Linked DNA regions of Homo sapiens: region 2 is linked to region 1. The links come from fine-mapping of genetic effects on gene expression. Tissue or cell type: ileum. Region 1 holds a variant in brackets; the other region holds the start of a gene. All regions are shown on one strand. Distances are between the middles of the regions.

Region 1 (8,101 bases):
GGGTTCAAGTGATCCTCCTGCCTTGACCACTCCCAAAGTGCTGGGATTATAGGCGTGAGCCACTGCACCGGGCCTACCCCAACTTTTTATTTTGACAAGTTTCAAACCCTCACGTGGATTCACTAATTCTTAGCAATTTTGCCACATTTGCTTTCTTTCTGTCATCATGACACTTCACCTCTACATACTTCAGAATGTATTTGCTATGAACAAGGTAATTCCCACACATAACCACAATTATCACACTTGATAAATTTAACATTGATATATCGTTGTCATCTAATATATGGATCATATTCAAATTTCCCCAAGGGTAAAATGTCCTTTAGAGCTGATCTCCCCTACACAATCTTGCATCTAATCCAGGATCACTCATTGAATTTATTTATTTATTTATATTTTATTTTATTTTTGGAGACAGAGTTTCACTCTGTCTCCCAGTCGGAAGTTGCTGGCAATCACAGCTCAGTGCAACCTCCACCTACCCGGGTTCAAGCGATTCTTCGACCACTGCCTCCAGAATAGCTGGGACTACAGGTGTCCACCACCATGTTCAGCAATTTTTTTTTTTTGTATTTTTTAGTAGAGATGGGGTTTTGCTATATTGCCCAGGCTGGTCTTGAATTCCTGAGTTCAAGCAATCCACCGACCTCAGCCTCCCAAAGTGCTGGGATTAAAGGCATGAGCCACTGTGTCTGGCCTGTATTTATTTTTTATGTCTCCTTTAATCTGGGGTAGTTCTTAGCTTTTTCTTAATGTTTTATAACAACGACATCTGTAAAGTGTCCAGACCAATCATTTTGCAGAATCTCTCTCACTTTGATCTCTATTTCCTCAAGACTAGGTGGTGAGTGAACATTTTTTGGGCATTTTGGGGAGGACTACTACAGAAATGTACTCCCCGTGTGTGTGTCCTTCCCAGTGCATCACATCAGAAGGCACACAAGGCCAGTTTGTCCTATTAAGCTTTTTTTTTTTTTTTTTTTTTGAGACTGAGTCTCACTCTGTTGCCCAGGCTGGAGTGCAGTGGTGTGATCTCATCTCACTGCAACCTCCCTGCCTCCTAGGTTCAAGCAATTCTTCTGCCTCAGCCTCCCAAGTAGGTGGGATTACAGGTGCGCACCACTATGCCTGGCTAATTTTTTTGTATTTTTAGTAGAGATGGGGTTTCGCCATGTTGGCCAGGCTGGTCTCAAACTCCTGATCTCAGGTGACCTGCCCACCTCAGCCTCCCAAAGTGCTGGGATTACAGGTGTGAGCCACCACGCCTGGCCATTAAGCTTTGATTCTTTGATTAAGGTGATGTTCACCAGATCAGTCTAGCTTTTGATACTTTTTTTTTTTTTTTTTGAGACAGAGTTTTGCTGTGTCACCGAGGGTAGAGTGCAGTGCTGCAATCTCAGCTCACTGCAACTTCTGCCTCCCAGGTTCAAGCGATTCTCCTGCCTCAGCCTCCTGAGTAGCTGGGATTACAGGTGCATGCCACCACACCCAGCTAATTTTTGTATTTTTAGTAGAGACGGGGGTTGCCCCATGTTGGTCAGGCTGGTCTCAAACTCCTGACCTTGAGATCCACCTGCCTCCACCTCCCAAAGTGCTGGGATTACAAGTGTGAGCCACCGTGCCCGGCCACTTTTGATAATTTAAAAACCTGACTTTCCGAGCAGTCAGAGCAGCTGTAGCACATCTGACCTGCTTTCACCTTCGATCTTCTCTGGGACCACCAAGAATTGAAGGATGGCAGGAAGTGTGAAGAAAGTGGTGAGGCTCTGGCTGGGTGCGGTGGCTCACACCTGTAATCCCCGCACTTTGGAAAGCTGAGGCGGGTGCATCACTTAAGGTCAGGAGTTCGAGACTAGCCTAGCCAACATGGTGAAACCCTGTTTCTACTAAAAATACAAAAATTAGCTGGGCTTGGTGGCATACACCAGCTACTAGGGAGGCTGAGGCACTAGGGACCCTGTGGATCGCTTGAACCAGGAGGCGGAGGTTGCAGTGCGCTGAGATCGCATCGCTGCACTCCGGCCTGGGCAACAGAGTGAGACTCCGTCTAAAACAACACAAAACAATAATAACAACTAAGAGAGTAGCGTGGCTTGGTGGCGGTGTCACTCCTGAGGCCTCTGGGAACAACTCTACAGTTATGCTTTGTCCCGTGCTGCGGAGCCTAGTATGGGGATTATCCCCCGCCATGCGTTGTATCTGAATCCTTGTACGCGCGCCCGGGGGTGTGCATGAAAATGGGCATGTGCGCGGTGCTTATGTATGTATGGGTCTTTTTGCCCGCAGCGGCGCGTCCGCAGGCTTGTTCTGTCCTGTGCTAGCCTTCAAGTTTTGGCACGTCCGTCCGTTTTTCTTCTTTGGCGCGTCCGTTGGGCACTCTGGGTTTGGCTAAATCGTGGACGCTTCTAAAGCGTTTCTGCAGGGAGCTGGTCAGAGTTGTCAAGTGCTCCCCCAGTTCTGGGCCGGCTTGGTACGGTCTACAGCCTCCCTTTCCTTTCCCCACCTCCCCCATGGTGGTTGCACCCATTCGGCCCGGAAGTGCTCGCTTCTCTGCATTACACGCCGGTCAGGATTCGCGACCCGACATGGAGCGTCCCCGCAGTCCCCAATGCTCGGCCCCGGCCTCTGCCTCAGCTTCGGTTACCCTGGCGCAGCTCCTGCAGCTGGTCCAGCAGGGCCAGGAACTCCCGGGCCTGGAGAAACGCCACATCGCGGCGATCCACGGCGAACCCACAGCGTCCCGGCTGCCGCGGAGGCCCAAGCCCTGGGAGGCCGCGGCTTTGGCTGAGTCCCTTCCCCCTCCGACCCTCAGGATAGGAACGGCCCCGGCGGAGCCTGGCTTGGTTGAGGCAGCGACTGCGCCTTCTTCATGGCATACAGTGGGCCCCTGAGGTTCCAGGTCCTTTGCGGCGGCGATCTGGAGGGCGTGGCTACAGGACCCGGGATGCCATTCAGTTACTCATCTTTTATGCTTTCGTCCTGACCTGTCTCAACTAGACTTGCTCCTGCAACCACCATGGGGGTTTTGCATTTACATTTGTGGACCATGTTACAGTTAAGAAAAATCCTGTTTCAGTCCTTATATGTAATAAAATGTTTTATGATGTAACTTGGCCCCAGAATGATTTTGAAGATACATTAAAGGAAAGCCCAAAGCATTTAAAAAAGCCAACCAAGAAAGACTAAAATCTTGGCTCTTGGAATCAGCTGGATCAGGCAAGGGGCTAGAGAATTAGAGCATTAGAAAGGCTCCCACAGCCACCCTGAAATCAGTCCTTTTATGTTAAGCAGGCCACCTGGCTCAGTGCCTACATACTCAACACTAGATTTTACTTTCTCTACAAAAGCTAGAATGTACCTGGTACGTGCTGACATGACCCTAACCCACAGACGATGTAACAGGTCTACCTTTTCTCAGAAAGGATTGTCTCACAACTTGTTCAACGAATTAGTTATGTCATGGTACATACATATAAGTGCGCAATTTTTGTAACATCTTTTATTTGTATACAATTATAAATTACAAACTTGTTTTATTAGGTTTTTTAAAATTTATTTTTCGTCAACTTAGTCCCTTTTATTTACCAGCAGTTTGCTCTGACAGAATAAATTACAAACTATTGTTTTGTTTAATCCCTTTAACCATCATGTCAGGCACACAGGTTGGAGAATATTAGCTCCCATTTTATGGACAGAGTGGAAACACTGTACCCATATTTAGTGTAAGACAGAGCTGGGATATAAGCCTTGGGCTTCCATAGTCACAACTGCTTTTTTGCATAACTTTGTAATACAT[C/T]ATTTTAAAGTAATCTGATTTCACAATGTTTTACAGTATAGGAGTAACATCTATAGCATCTCTTCTTGGCAGGTTACCTCTGGAGAGAACCAATCTAATTACCTCATACGCTGGCACTTTTTTTTTTTTTTTTTTTGAGACAGAGTTTTGCTTTTGTTGCCCAAGGTGGAGTGCAATGGTGTGATCTCGGCTCACTGCAACCTCTGCCTCCCTGGGTTCAAGCAATTCTCTTGCCTCAGCCTCCCAAGTAGCTGGGATTACAGGCATGCACCACCACATCCGGCTAATTTTGTATTTTCAGTAGGGACAGAATTTCTCCATGTTGGTCAGGCTGGTCTCGAACTCCTGACCTCAAGTGATCTGCCTGCCTCAGCCTCCTGAAGTGTTGAGATTACAGGTGTGAGCCACCGTGCCCAGCCTAAGCTGGCATGTTTTAAGGCAGTTACATCTCTAACTTGATTTACCAGCTATGCTTGAGGGTCCAAGGAGCCAAAATTGCAGCCAAACTGATCTTAAAGGACCAGGGAATAGAATGGTCAAGCATGTTTCCAAGTTTAACCTAGGCCTGGCACATCCTTGCCAATTGCTCAGATGGCAAGTGAGGGGCAACTAAGTGAAGAGAATAGCAGGAAGACCCACTTGGGGTGGACACTGATGAAAAACACAAGCAGTATCAGACTCACTGTTTTCAGGATTAAAATCCCCAGATGCCCTGTTATTGGTCTATGTCACTACCAGTAGGACAAAAGGCAATGCTTCTGAAGACTAGAATATGCAAGGAAAAAATTAAGGTGCCTGCCTGCCTGGGGCCTAACGAGCCAAACAGTGCTAATTTCATCCATGCCAAACAAAATTGTTCATTCCTTGCTGATTTGGGTTTTAAGGAACCATGCTGATCATCAGAGAAACCAGGCAATTCTATTCTGAAGCCCAGGGGAAGAAATGGTGGGGATTTCTGAGTTACAGATGGTGCAGGGGTTAACACTATCTGCCACTATGAAGGGAAAAATCTATCTTGGTAAACTTTGGTCTTCCATAGGACATGGAACCAGAGTAGCAAGATCAGGGCCTGCGTGACCGATCCTGATTGAGCAGGACTTCCTCACATAAGGTACACAAGAGCTGGGCGCAGTTGCTCATGCCTGTAATCCCAGCACTTTGGGAGGCCCAGGCTTGTGGATCACTTGAGGTCAGGAGTTTGAGACTAGCCTGGCCTACATGGTGAAACTCTGTCTCCATCTCTACTAAAAATACAAGAATTAGCTGGGTGTGGTGGTACATGCATGTAATCCCAGCTGATCAAGGGGCTGAGGCAGAATCACTTGAACCCAGGAGGTGGAGGCTGCAATGAGCTGAGATCATGCCACTGCGCTCCAGCCTGGGCAACAGGGTGAGACTGTCTCAAAGAGAAAAACAAAACCCATAAGATGCACAGGTATCTGAGAAGGGTCTAAACACCCTAGAACTGCAAGCAAAATTTTGAGTGTATACATGTTTTCCTGGCGAAGGGGTCCTCATTCTCAAATCCTGAGCTTTTAGGAAAAAGTACTAAGCCAGTTTCAGGTTACGATACAAAAGCCACCAGATACACTTAGAGCCAGTCAAGTTTGAGAATTCTCAAAGCCATCACTGAAAAGTTGGAACACATACTCACAGCAGAGACAAGTGAACATTTATTTTTATGCCTTTCTTCCTATGTGTATTTCAAGTCTTTTTCAAAACAAGGCCCCAGGACTCTCCAGATTCAATTATGTCCTTGGGCTTGGTCGACTGCTGCAGGAGTCTCAGGGAGCCTTCTACAAATGCTAGAGTGACTCATTTACCAACATTAAACCCTAGGATACATGCAACAAAGCAGGACTCCTTCCTCCATGGAATGTGCCGATTTCAGATGACACAGCACCCAATGCAGAAAACACTGGAATTTTTCCTTGGAACTCGACTGTGATGAGAGGTGCTTGACATGAACATATGCTACTGTCTTTTCTTTTTTTTTGAGACAGAGTTTCGCTTGTTGCCCAGGCTGGAGTGCAATGGCGTGATCTCAGCTCACTGCAACTTCCACCTCCCAGGTTCAAGCGATTCTCCTGCCTCAGCCTCCTGAGTAGCTGGGATTACAGGCACGTGCCACCATGCCCGGCTAATTTTTGTATTTTTAGTAGAGATGGCATTTCTCCATGTTGGTCAGGCTGGTCTCGAACTCCCAACCTCAGGTGATCTGCCCACCTCAGCCTCCCTAAGTGTTGGGATTACAGGCATGAGCCACCACGACCGGCCAGCTACTGTCTTTTCTTTGACCCTTTCCAGTTTCTGAAGATAAAGCAGGAAATAATCTTCTCTGAAGATACTTGATAAAAATTTCCAAAACAAAACACATGCTTCCACTTCACTGATAAAAAATTTACCGCAGTTTGGCACCTAAGAGTATGACAACAGCAATAAAAAGTAATTTCAAAGAGTTAAGATTTCTTCAGCAAAATAGATGATTCACATCTTCAAGTCCTTTTTGAAATCAGTTATTAATATTATTCTTTCCTCATTTCCATCTGAATGACTGCAGCAATAGTTTTTTTTTTTTTTTTTCCGAGATGGAGTCTCGCTCTGTCGCCCAGCTGGAGTGCACTGGTGCAATCTTGGCTCACTGCAATCTCTGCCTCCTGGGTTCAAGCGATTTTCCTGCCTTAGCCTCTCGAGTAGCTGGGACTACAGGCACGCGCCACCACACCCAGCTCATTTTTGTATTTTTAGTAGAGACAGGGTTTCACCATGTTGGCCAGGATGGTCTCAATCTCCTGACCTCATGGTCTGCCCGCCTTGGCCTCCCAAAGTGCTGGGATTACAGGCGTGAGCCACCGCGCCCGGCCAGCAATACAGTTTTTAGTTACTCGACATCTTTAAGCCTATAACTCTTAGGCTATGCATAGCCCCATGTCCTAATCAGGCATTCACTGATCCCAGCAGGTCTCCATCTATTTGTACCAGCCTCCTCTATTCCTCCCAATCTCAAGGTTACTCTTAAATACTAGTAAATGCAAAAAGAACTTGTAAAGTGGCAAGGCATGGCCTATCAAAAGTCAGCCCAAGGGCAGTTTTCAGCCCTGCCTCACCTGGGTCTAGTTCAGCTGACGGATGAGCTGATTGATGCGTTCACCCCGATAGCCAGGTGTGCCCATCTCCTTGAGGAAGCCCACTCTATTTTTGGTAGCATGACGGGCCACTGAGAGGTGGAAAGGGCACAAGAACCATGAGATCTCCTGGAAATGCTTCCCTGGGAAGGCAATTTCATGAATGAGGTCTTCCAAGCAAATGACGCCAAACTTCCCTAAGAAACACAAAAGCACAGATTCCTTTATTTAACATGTATCCAGCATATACTAAGCTGGCCACTCTGGCAGACTCTTGGGGCCCCAAGAAGAATACAACCTGAATCTCACATCAAAGCTTCAAAGACCCTGGCTTTCTGCCCCAGCTGATCCCTAAGCTGTAGCACTCACCCAGGTGCTCCTCAATCACTGTATTGTCTGTCAGAGGGATGGTCTTATTCTTGACCTTGGCTTGTCCACGTTTCAAAATGAGTTCTCGGACAGACTTCAGATTTGGAAATCTATGTAGGAAAATAAAGCACGGTTTTCACCAGCACCTGGCACACTACATACCAGTCCTGCAGCCTGGCTGAGAGGTTGGAGAGGTTCTCCCACACACTCACTTCTCCCAACGAGCAAGTGTTCTGCAATCACATTCCAGCTGAAATGCTTGGAAATACTCCTGATAAAGAACTGAAGTGACCCCACTTACATAATTAGAAATTTAAATTTATGGATGTAAATGTTCACCAGGGAAAATATTGCCAACAAAAACAAAACAGAAACCATGTCCTAGCTTACCTTAGGGGCTACGACTCTGGCCTTAGGTGACCCTCTACTCAAGATGGTGCAAGAGTTGGAAATAAAATCCAAGTTTTTGTTGGGTTTCAATGTTTGAGGAATACTACTCTTTTTTTTTTTTTGAGACGGAGTCTTGCTCAGTCTCCCAGGCTGGAGTGCAGTGGCACGATCTCGACTCACTGCAAGCTCCGCCTCCCAGGTTCATGCCATTCTCCTGCCTCAGCCTCCCAAGTAGCTGGGACTACAGGTGCCAGGCTAATTTTTTTTGTATTTTTAGTAGAGACGGGGTTTCACCATGTTAGCCAGGATGGTCTCGATCTCCCGACCTCGTGATCCACCGTGTCTGGCCTTTTTTTTTTTTTTTGAGACAGAGTGGATTGCAGTGGCACAATCTCAGCTCACTGCAACCTCTGCCTCA
Region 2 (8,088 bases), 120 kb before region 1:
GGAGGACTGTGTCGTCGATGAGGACGGTTGAGTGTCCATAGCGCATGTAGGGTACCACAGGAGCTTGCCCACGGATGGCAGACTTCACCGGGGGCAGCTTTGTCCAACGCAAGGACACTGTGGGCACAGCTCTGCTCAGCCCTGGGAACCTCCCTCCAGGCTGTCCACTTTTCCCAAACCAGATGTTTGTCCCCAATCCCCTTGGTCCCAGAGACCACAGCCAAACCTCATCAGCAGCCCGTTCCCACCCTGATGTGGGGACCCAGGGACAGCCCCAGCATTGGCTTACCTGCATTGAAAATGTGCACATCTATCTGACGCAGTGTCTCATAGTCTTCACCAGAGCAGTAACCCCCGAAGGAGTATACCCGATGCCCGACAGCCACTGCAGCATGGTTCACCCTGCGGGGCCCGCCCTCCAGGTGCACTGTCCACCGTAACATCCCCTGGGCCACTGGTTACAGCAACATGCCCCCCCGGCACGGCCTGCTGCCTCTGCTATCTGCACACAAATTGGGGCCACGGGATCCTCAGGCGAGGCTTCTGCCCAGCTCACTGTGACTCTGCCCAGAACCAGCCTTTGCCTCCAAGTGTCACCCTGGGGGCCCTCCCACACTACCCCTCCACAGGGGCACTAGTCTCAGCTCAGGTGGCTGGCCCTGCCCCAAGGGAGCTGCCGAGGTCAGGGAGCAGCCTGGGCCCAGTGTTCTCCAACAGTGAAGGGTGGGGCCACCCCCACCTGATTGCCAGCTCAGAATCTGCATATCATGGTCACAACCTACTCGTGGAGGCTCCACTCTGTCCCTGGCTTGGCACAAACTTGAAGCCCCCTTCCCAAACGGTATATTCTCTTGTCTCTGCTCTGCTTACTGCCACCTCTCTAAGAATCTGTGTTCTTTGAGGTGGGGAAAGGGATCTCAAAATACTCACAGCTATTAATAGCCCAGCCAGCCTCAAACAGTCCATTGAAAGCTGGCATGAGTGCCTCAAAGCAGAAAAGCTTTCAGGCTTTTAGAGTGGAACAATCCCCCTACCCAAGATAGGGCGGGACTGATCCAGGACAGGGACCTCCATGTTACCGCGGTTGGTTAGCCCCTCACAGGGAGCTCCTGTCAAGCTGAGTTGTTGTCATTGGGGTCACCCAGGGCCCCCCACAGGCACAAGGAGTTCCTTTGACAGCTGTGCCTGGTATGCTGCCAGGACTTAAGCCAGAAAGGTATGTGTATGCTTAGGCTTGGGGGATGGTGATAGAGGGAGGGGTTTTCTCCTCCTGCCACTTCCCCATCCCTGCTACTGTGGTAGAGAACAAGCCATTTCCAGTAGAAAAGAGAGAACAAGCTCTTCCACAACTTGGGTTCCTGAAAGGCGGATAGAGGTGGGAGTGTGCAATGCAAAGGGGAAGGGGCTGGGCACAGTGGCTCACACCTGTAATCCCAGCACCCTGAGAGGCCGAGGCAGGTGGATCACGAGATCAAGAGACGGAGACCATCCTGGCCAACATGGTGAAACCCGTCTCTACTAAAAATACAAAAATTAGCTGGGCACGGTGGCGCGCACCTGTAGTCCCAGCTACTCAGGAGGCTGAGGCAGGAGAATTGCTTGCACTCGGGTGGCGGAGGTTGGAGTGAGCCGAGATCACACCACTGCACTCCAGTCTGGCGACAGAGCGAGACTCTGTCTCAAAACAAAAAAAAAGGGGAAGGGAGGCAAAAAATGCCCTTGGGCAGGACAAGAGAAAGATCCAGCATGAGAAGTCATGGTCTTTTTTTTTTTTTTTTTTTTTAGATGAAGTCTCGCTCTTGCCCCCAGGCTGGAGCGCAATGGTGCAATCTCAGCTCACTGCAAACTCTGCCTCCCTCCCGGGTTCAAGCGATTCTCCTGCCTCAGCCTCCCAAGTAGCTGGGATTACAGGCGCCTGCCACCATGCCCAGCTAATTTTTGTATTTTTAGTAGAGATGGGGTCTCACTATGTTGGCCAGGCTGGTCTCAAACTCCTGACCTCAGGTGATCCACCGTCCTCGGTCTCCTGAAGTGCTGGGATTACAGGCGTGAGCCACCATGCCCAGCTGGTCATGGTCTCTTAAACACAACCTGTCAACCTAGTGGCACGTACACCTGGGTACATCTGAGGTTTTTTCAGGCAAATCCTTGCAACTGACAATGCTTTTGCTGGCAAGCATCTCCTGAGTTTGGGTGTATCATCATCTGCTCCCTGTTTAAGAAGCCCTGGCAGAGGAAAGGGCCAGGCAAAACCTCAGGCACTAAAACAGCTCAAATAAGGGAGGCCCCTTGCAGGAAAGAGACATGGCTTTCAGCTGGCTTGCTAGTCCCACCCACCCAACCTCCCCCAACTCCACACCCTAAGCTTTAAATAGCCATGGGACCCATCCTGAAATAGCCCCAGCAGGAAGCTACTCTCACTTCATTACTCCCGCTCTCCAAAATATCTTGGGTCTGGGCTTGTGGAGACTGTTAGGAGGTCGATGGGCTTAAGAATGGAAGTCTTCCATCCTCCCTTATATTCTCTATTCTTCCCTTCAGATATGTCAAGGTAAAGTAAAATATGCACAGGAGAGGAGATAAGCAATTCCAGCCAAAGGTGGAGAAAAAAAATTTTAGTTTCTCTGCCATATAAACAACTCAAATTCAAGGAGAACAAGCCCCCAGGCGCTCAGGGGCTCCTCTTATCCCTGGGTCTCCCCAGTCCTCCATCACCACCAAGCATTTTCAAACTTCTTCTATTCCCTTAATGTATCTACCCGCCTGGTCTCTTGCATTTTTTATTCCCCATTTCTCGCCCTTCTTGATCTCGTGAGAGCTTTGCAGTTTTCTCATTTTTCCTTCTCCTACCATTCCAAGCTCCACCCAACAGCCCTCCATTTTCCCACCTCCACTAAGGAAAGAAAAATTAGCATGCACTGACCACGATACCCCTCTCTGCATATGACTCTATCCCTGTCTTCTTCCAGACATTCCGGCCTCCCCTAGCCCACCACGCCAGACACCCCTCCCCTTCCATTATGCTCAGCTTCCCTGTTTTCATGGCCCAGTCTTCCTTCCCATTTCCTTCATTGCTTCCTCCAGACACCAGGTCTCTCCTACCCATCTCCTCGCCATCCTCCCCTAGCCCTGCTTTCCCCATTAACACTCTCCTTTCCCATCATCCCCCTAGCTCCCTCCCCACCCCCACCTCATCACTCTCAGGCCCCTCCCCCGCCACTCCAGCTCCAGACAGCACGTCCTAAGCCCCCTAATTCTCCCTTGCCCTTCTACCCATCCCAGGCTACCTGCCAGGCCGAGCCGGGGCGGGGCCGCGGGTCCTCGAGCTGCCTGCAGCCTAGAACCCGTTGCGCGCCAACCGACGCCTTAGTCCCCAACGAGATAAACACAGCCAAGCTCGGTTCTTCCGGCGGGCAGCTGTGCGCGCACGTGCAGTCGTAGCTAAGTGCCGGAGGCATTTCGGGACTTGTAGTCCATACGTTTCCTGAGGGACGAGAGGGCTGAGGAGTGGGCAGGGGCGTAGGAGAGATTCTGCGCATGTGCAAATATGTGTCGAGACCGAGGAGGCCACTGGGTAATGCAGTCCTTTGTTTTTTGGGCTGGGAATGACGGAGGCGGGGCAAGGGGCGGACTCCTCGTCCTCGCCAGCGTCAATCATGGATATGGGGCGGGGCTGGAGGACTAGGCACCTCTGCACGTCCTGCCCCGCCGGAAGTGGAGGCCGCGGGCTCTGAGCGGGTGAGGCGCGCGGGAACACCGGCGCCGGGATTCGGATGGGGGCGGGTGGGGGACGCTGCAGCTGGGGCCATTTGAGGGGAGCCCATGGGGCCTGAAAGGCATCTGTCAGGCGGTACAGAGGGGGTCCTCTAGGAGAGGGGAGAAGGGGGCGGGTACGCCGACCTGTTTAGGGGAGTCTGATGACCCAGAGTTCCCAAGTCGCGGGGGAGGCGTGGCGCGGGGAGCCGGGGTTCTGGAAGGGGTGTCTTTTAGGAGGTGGCAGGGCCTCCGGTTGGGCGTTTAACTAGGAAGTGGCGGAGCAAGTTGGTGGGGCCTGGTTCAAGATAAGAACCCCGACTTAGGAGGGGGAGGAACGAGAGGCTGGAATTGGGGCGGAGGGGTGGAGGATGCAGGAGCCTCGGGGAGGAGCTGGTTTTTTGCACGCAGGAGACTACAAGGAGATGATGAGAGGATGAAGATGGGCCTGGTTTCATCCGATCCCTGTCCTACCGCCTCCCTGTTCTTGCAGCCCCTGCCCGGATGGCAACAGTAGTTCTAGGAGGAGACACCATGGGCCCTGAGCGTATCTTCCCCAATCAGACTGAGGAACTGGGACATCAGGGCCCTTCAGAAGGCACTGGGGATTGGAGCAGTGAGGAGCCTGAGGAAGAGCAGGAGGAAACGGGGTCGGGCCCAGCTGGCTACTCCTACCAGCCCCTGAACCAAGATCCTGAACAAGAGGAGGTGGAACTGGCACCAGTGGGGGATGGAGATGTAGTTGCTGACATCCAGGATCGAATCCAGGTAGGGTGGAGGAGGGATGGTTCCTGAACAGGTGAAGCTGGGCTCCCTGAAAGCCTAGACCCAAACGGTCTTCTGTGGCTCTGCAGGCCCTGGGGCTTCATTTGCCAGACCCACCATTAGAGAGTGAAGATGAAGATGAGGAGGGAGCTACAGCGTTGAACAACCACAGCTCTATTCCCATGGACCCAGGTAAAAGATCATTCTTTCATTCTGGAATAATTACTAAGGAAATGAACTGGCATGAGTCAGTAGAAGGAAGTTTCAGAGGAAGACCCTATCCTAAAAAGATAGTTTGTAAACTAAGATTTTGTAGACTTCAGAGTCCAAGTGAAATGCTCTTTTGCTAGCTTTGGGGATGGGCAGGCTTGCCTTAAAGTAACAAGGTGGATTTGGTGACCCTAGCAGCCCAAGGGCTCTGGGTTGATTCGGGGATTGGGGAGGGGAGCTGGTCCCATTATTTCTATGCCTGAATGGCCTCTGGCTCTGATTTCAGAACATGTAGAGCTGGTGAAAAGGACAATGGCTGGAGTAAGCCTGCCTGCGCCAGGGGTTCCTGCCTGGGCTCGGGAGATATCGGATGCCCAGTGGGAAGATGTGGTACAGAAAGCCCTCCAAGCCCGGCAGGCATCCCCTGCCTGGAAGTGACCACAGTGAGAGCTGCCTTATATTCCTACATTCCAGGCCAGAACCAGCACAGGACTGAACACATCCCTGGTTGTAATGTCCATTTCCATCTTCCCCGTCTCCCTTTCCACATCAAGGCACATCAGACTTCTCAGAGACCCACTTTATTCAGTTCTGTACATATGGGGACATCGGTCCAAGCCCAACCCACCTTAGCATGTATCACTCTGTGGAGAATAAAGCACCCTATGTACACAGCCAAAAGCCGCACTGCCTGCGCCCCTGGAACCTGGGTCCGGCCTTCCTCAGCCCCTGGCCCCTCCAAGGTACCTATAAGGGACAAGAGAAGGCCTGCCCAGCATAGCACAAACAAGGAAATAAATAGGTGTTGGCAGGAGCCATGCTTGGGGCACCGCTCCCTGCTTCCTTCTTTCTAGTTTTGGGAACCAACAGCACAGAAAAGCAGTCAGCCCCAGGGTGGTCCCTTCCATGTCTGTGACCCCAGGGCTGCTGCTCACCAAAGACAGGGCACGGGGTAGGGTGTTTATTCATCCCTCCCCGGCCCCACTTGGTCCATCTGGGCCCTATATTCATCAGTTATTGTCCACAGCCTATACTTTTCTCCTTTTGACCTCCCTTGGTCAGGCATGGGGTAAGAAGAAATAATACAACCCTATCTGCCAGCACACGGCTGGGACTGGGGGGCCTATTTGTGCTGCAGGGGGGTTGGCTTCCCTTCAGCTACTCTGGGACCAATGGGGCTTGACATAACTTTGGTGAGAATAATCTCCTGCTGTTCCCTACATGCCTCTGCAGGGGAGAGAGAGGAGGGGAGATACCTGGCGTTCAAATGAGGATGAAGGGAAGAATAGAGGAGCGTATGTATTCCTGTGTGTACTTCTCAGAGCAGCCTCAGGTAGCTGTGGGTGAGGAGCAGGTAGGGGACAGGCATCCCCAGGTTGTCTGAGCACTAAGCATCTTAGTGCTCAGCCTGTACTAGCCACAGGGAGGCATGAACACCTTTTGGGGAGAAGAGGGACCATTCTGTGGGTGTCCCTGCTTCAAGTGCCCACATCCCCCTCCCTTGAGTAGCTAGAGAGGCGCTGCCTTCCCCCAAGACAGCCAGTAGGGAGCAGAGTATGGAGGGCCAGGGCAGTGTCCCAGGGCTGTGTGGGCTGTGGCCCTGTGGTAGGAACGTGAGGGGTCAGAGAGCCTCCTGGCTGGCAGTTAGGAACTCTTCCGCCCGCTTGTGCGCCTCCAGTGCCTTGATGGTGTACACGTCCTGGGGCAGCTCCGACTTCCTCCGCAGCAGCACTTTCTCCTTCTTGATGTCTTTTAGCATCTGTGTGTGAATAGGGACAAGGTGAGGAATGGTGACCAATTCCCAGTGAATTCTATTGTTCCGTCCCCTTATTCTTTGGCTCTGCTGTTTCTGTCTCCTCTCCCTTCCAGAGCTATTATTTCTGCTCCATCCCCCTACATTGCCCTCCCACCTGAACAGCCTCAGTCTCCACAGTCCTCTTCAGAAGCTGGATGTCCTCAGCTGTGGGGGTCTCTGTCTCCATCGAGTACACAGGGGGCAGTGGTGGAGGGGCTCGGAACATGGGATACTGAGTGAGGAGACATGGACAAGCGTTAAGAGCCACTTCAGAGGCTTGGGGGCCTGTGTGCCCCATATTCCTCCCCCAACAAACTCTCCCCCAGCTCAAGATGGGCTGGCCCCTCAGTTCACAACAGTGGCAGGAAAACCTCACCTGGGGATTAAGCCGGGCCAGCTCCTCGATTTTTTGCCACATCTCTTCCCTTTCCTTCATTCGGAACCGGCCCCTGAGGAGCAAAAGTAGGATTGGGGTTGGGCTTGAGAGAAACACAGTGAGCTGGTGGTAGAAGATGAAAGTCTCCCGGGGAGAGAGATACTCACTTCTGCTTCTCTGCCTTGTATTGTTGTGTGCAGTCATCAAACAGCTTCTGATTCATTTCCATAAACAACTTCAGGGCATTATAGATCAGTCCATGGATTGTCCTGCCACCAAGAAGAAAGATGAGGTGTAGGAGGCCAGAGCCTGCCCTTAGCGTGAGGAACCCAATTTGTTCTCTCACAGGGGTATCTCTGCTAAGAGCTTTGTCATTTACTACTTCCAGTTCACAAACCTCTGTGCAGTATCAGAAGAGAGCTCTGGCCAAATCACCTGGTTTGAGACTGGCATTTCATGGTTTTCACAAATATCGGTCCACCTGTCCATCCTTCCCTCACCCCATGCTCCAAGGCCTGCCTACCTCCCATCCTTTCCCACTCTAACCCACACTAATGGCCTCCCAGCAGCATGATGGGCATGTAGATGCAGCATGACAGACTGCATCTACACCACAGTGTGCTTGCTTTTAGCAGAAAAGTCTTTTCAAAACCCTGAGTTTTTTTTTTAAGACGGAGTCTCACTCTGTTGCCCAGGCTGGAGTGCAGTGGCACGATCTCGGCTCACTGCAACCGTCACCTCCCAGGTTCAAGTGATTCTCCTGCCTCAGCCTCCCAAGTAGCTGGGACTACAGGCATCCACCACTACACCCAGCTAATTTTTGTATTTTTAGTAGAGATGGGGGTTTCACTATGTTGGGCAGGCTGGTCTCAAACTCCTGACCTCGTGATCCACCCGCCTTGCCAGCCTCCCAAAGTGCTAGGATTACAGGCGTGAGACACCGTGCCCGGCCTAAAACCCTGGGATTCTTTACACATACTCTCAAAGAAGGTCACATCAGCTTCTCACTGCATAGAATTACATCTCCAAAGCTGTGATAGGACCTGTAGAATAGCTGAACCCAAGGAGCGGTGTAACAGGCCGCTGCCCTGCTGTTTGGTATCACAGAGATCTTGCACACAGGCATCTTTTCGCTCCAGTCAGCCCCTCAAGGTCCTATCAACATGCAGGGGACATCAGCCCCACTTGC

What was found. PIP is the estimated chance that this variant, and not a neighbour inherited with it, causes the effect.
Region 2: MEA1 starts here. The variant in region 1 is fine-mapped to the expression of MEA1 in ileum (GTEx, PIP 0.95).

What each region holds. Positions count from the first base shown.
Region 1 is chr6:42,885,276-42,893,376 of GRCh38, reverse strand. It overlaps RPL7L1 (ribosomal protein L7 like 1), which reads right to left. Exons shown (of 6, transcript NM_001366481.3): 5 at 7,294-7,403; 6 at 3,477-7,121. The coding sequence ends at 6,913. PEX39 (peroxisomal biogenesis factor 39) reads left to right here and starts at 2,556. Exons shown (of 1, transcript NM_001008739.2): 1 at 2,556-3,112. The coding sequence starts at 2,589. The coding sequence ends at 2,894. RefSeq lists enhancers at 2,105-2,154, 2,215-3,064. The variant C/T (reference allele first, on the strand shown) is at 3,800.
Region 2 is chr6:43,009,548-43,017,635 of GRCh38, reverse strand. MEA1 (male-enhanced antigen 1) reads left to right here and starts at 3,690. Exons shown (of 4, transcript NM_014623.4): 1 at 3,690-3,850; 2 at 4,247-4,521; 3 at 4,608-4,710; 4 at 5,015-6,493. The coding sequence starts at 3,823. The coding sequence ends at 5,166. It overlaps PPP2R5D (protein phosphatase 2 regulatory subunit B'delta), which reads right to left. Exons shown (of 16, transcript NM_006245.4): 13 at 7,067-7,168; 14 at 6,900-6,972; 15 at 6,639-6,755; 16 at 5,294-6,487. The coding sequence ends at 6,350. It overlaps KLHDC3 (kelch domain containing 3), which reads right to left and starts at 3,387. Exons shown (of 11, transcript NM_057161.4): 1 at 3,288-3,387; 2 at 290-502; 3 at 1-117. The coding sequence starts at 443. RefSeq lists enhancers at 3,439-3,558, 5,522-6,022 and a silencer at 3,769-3,818.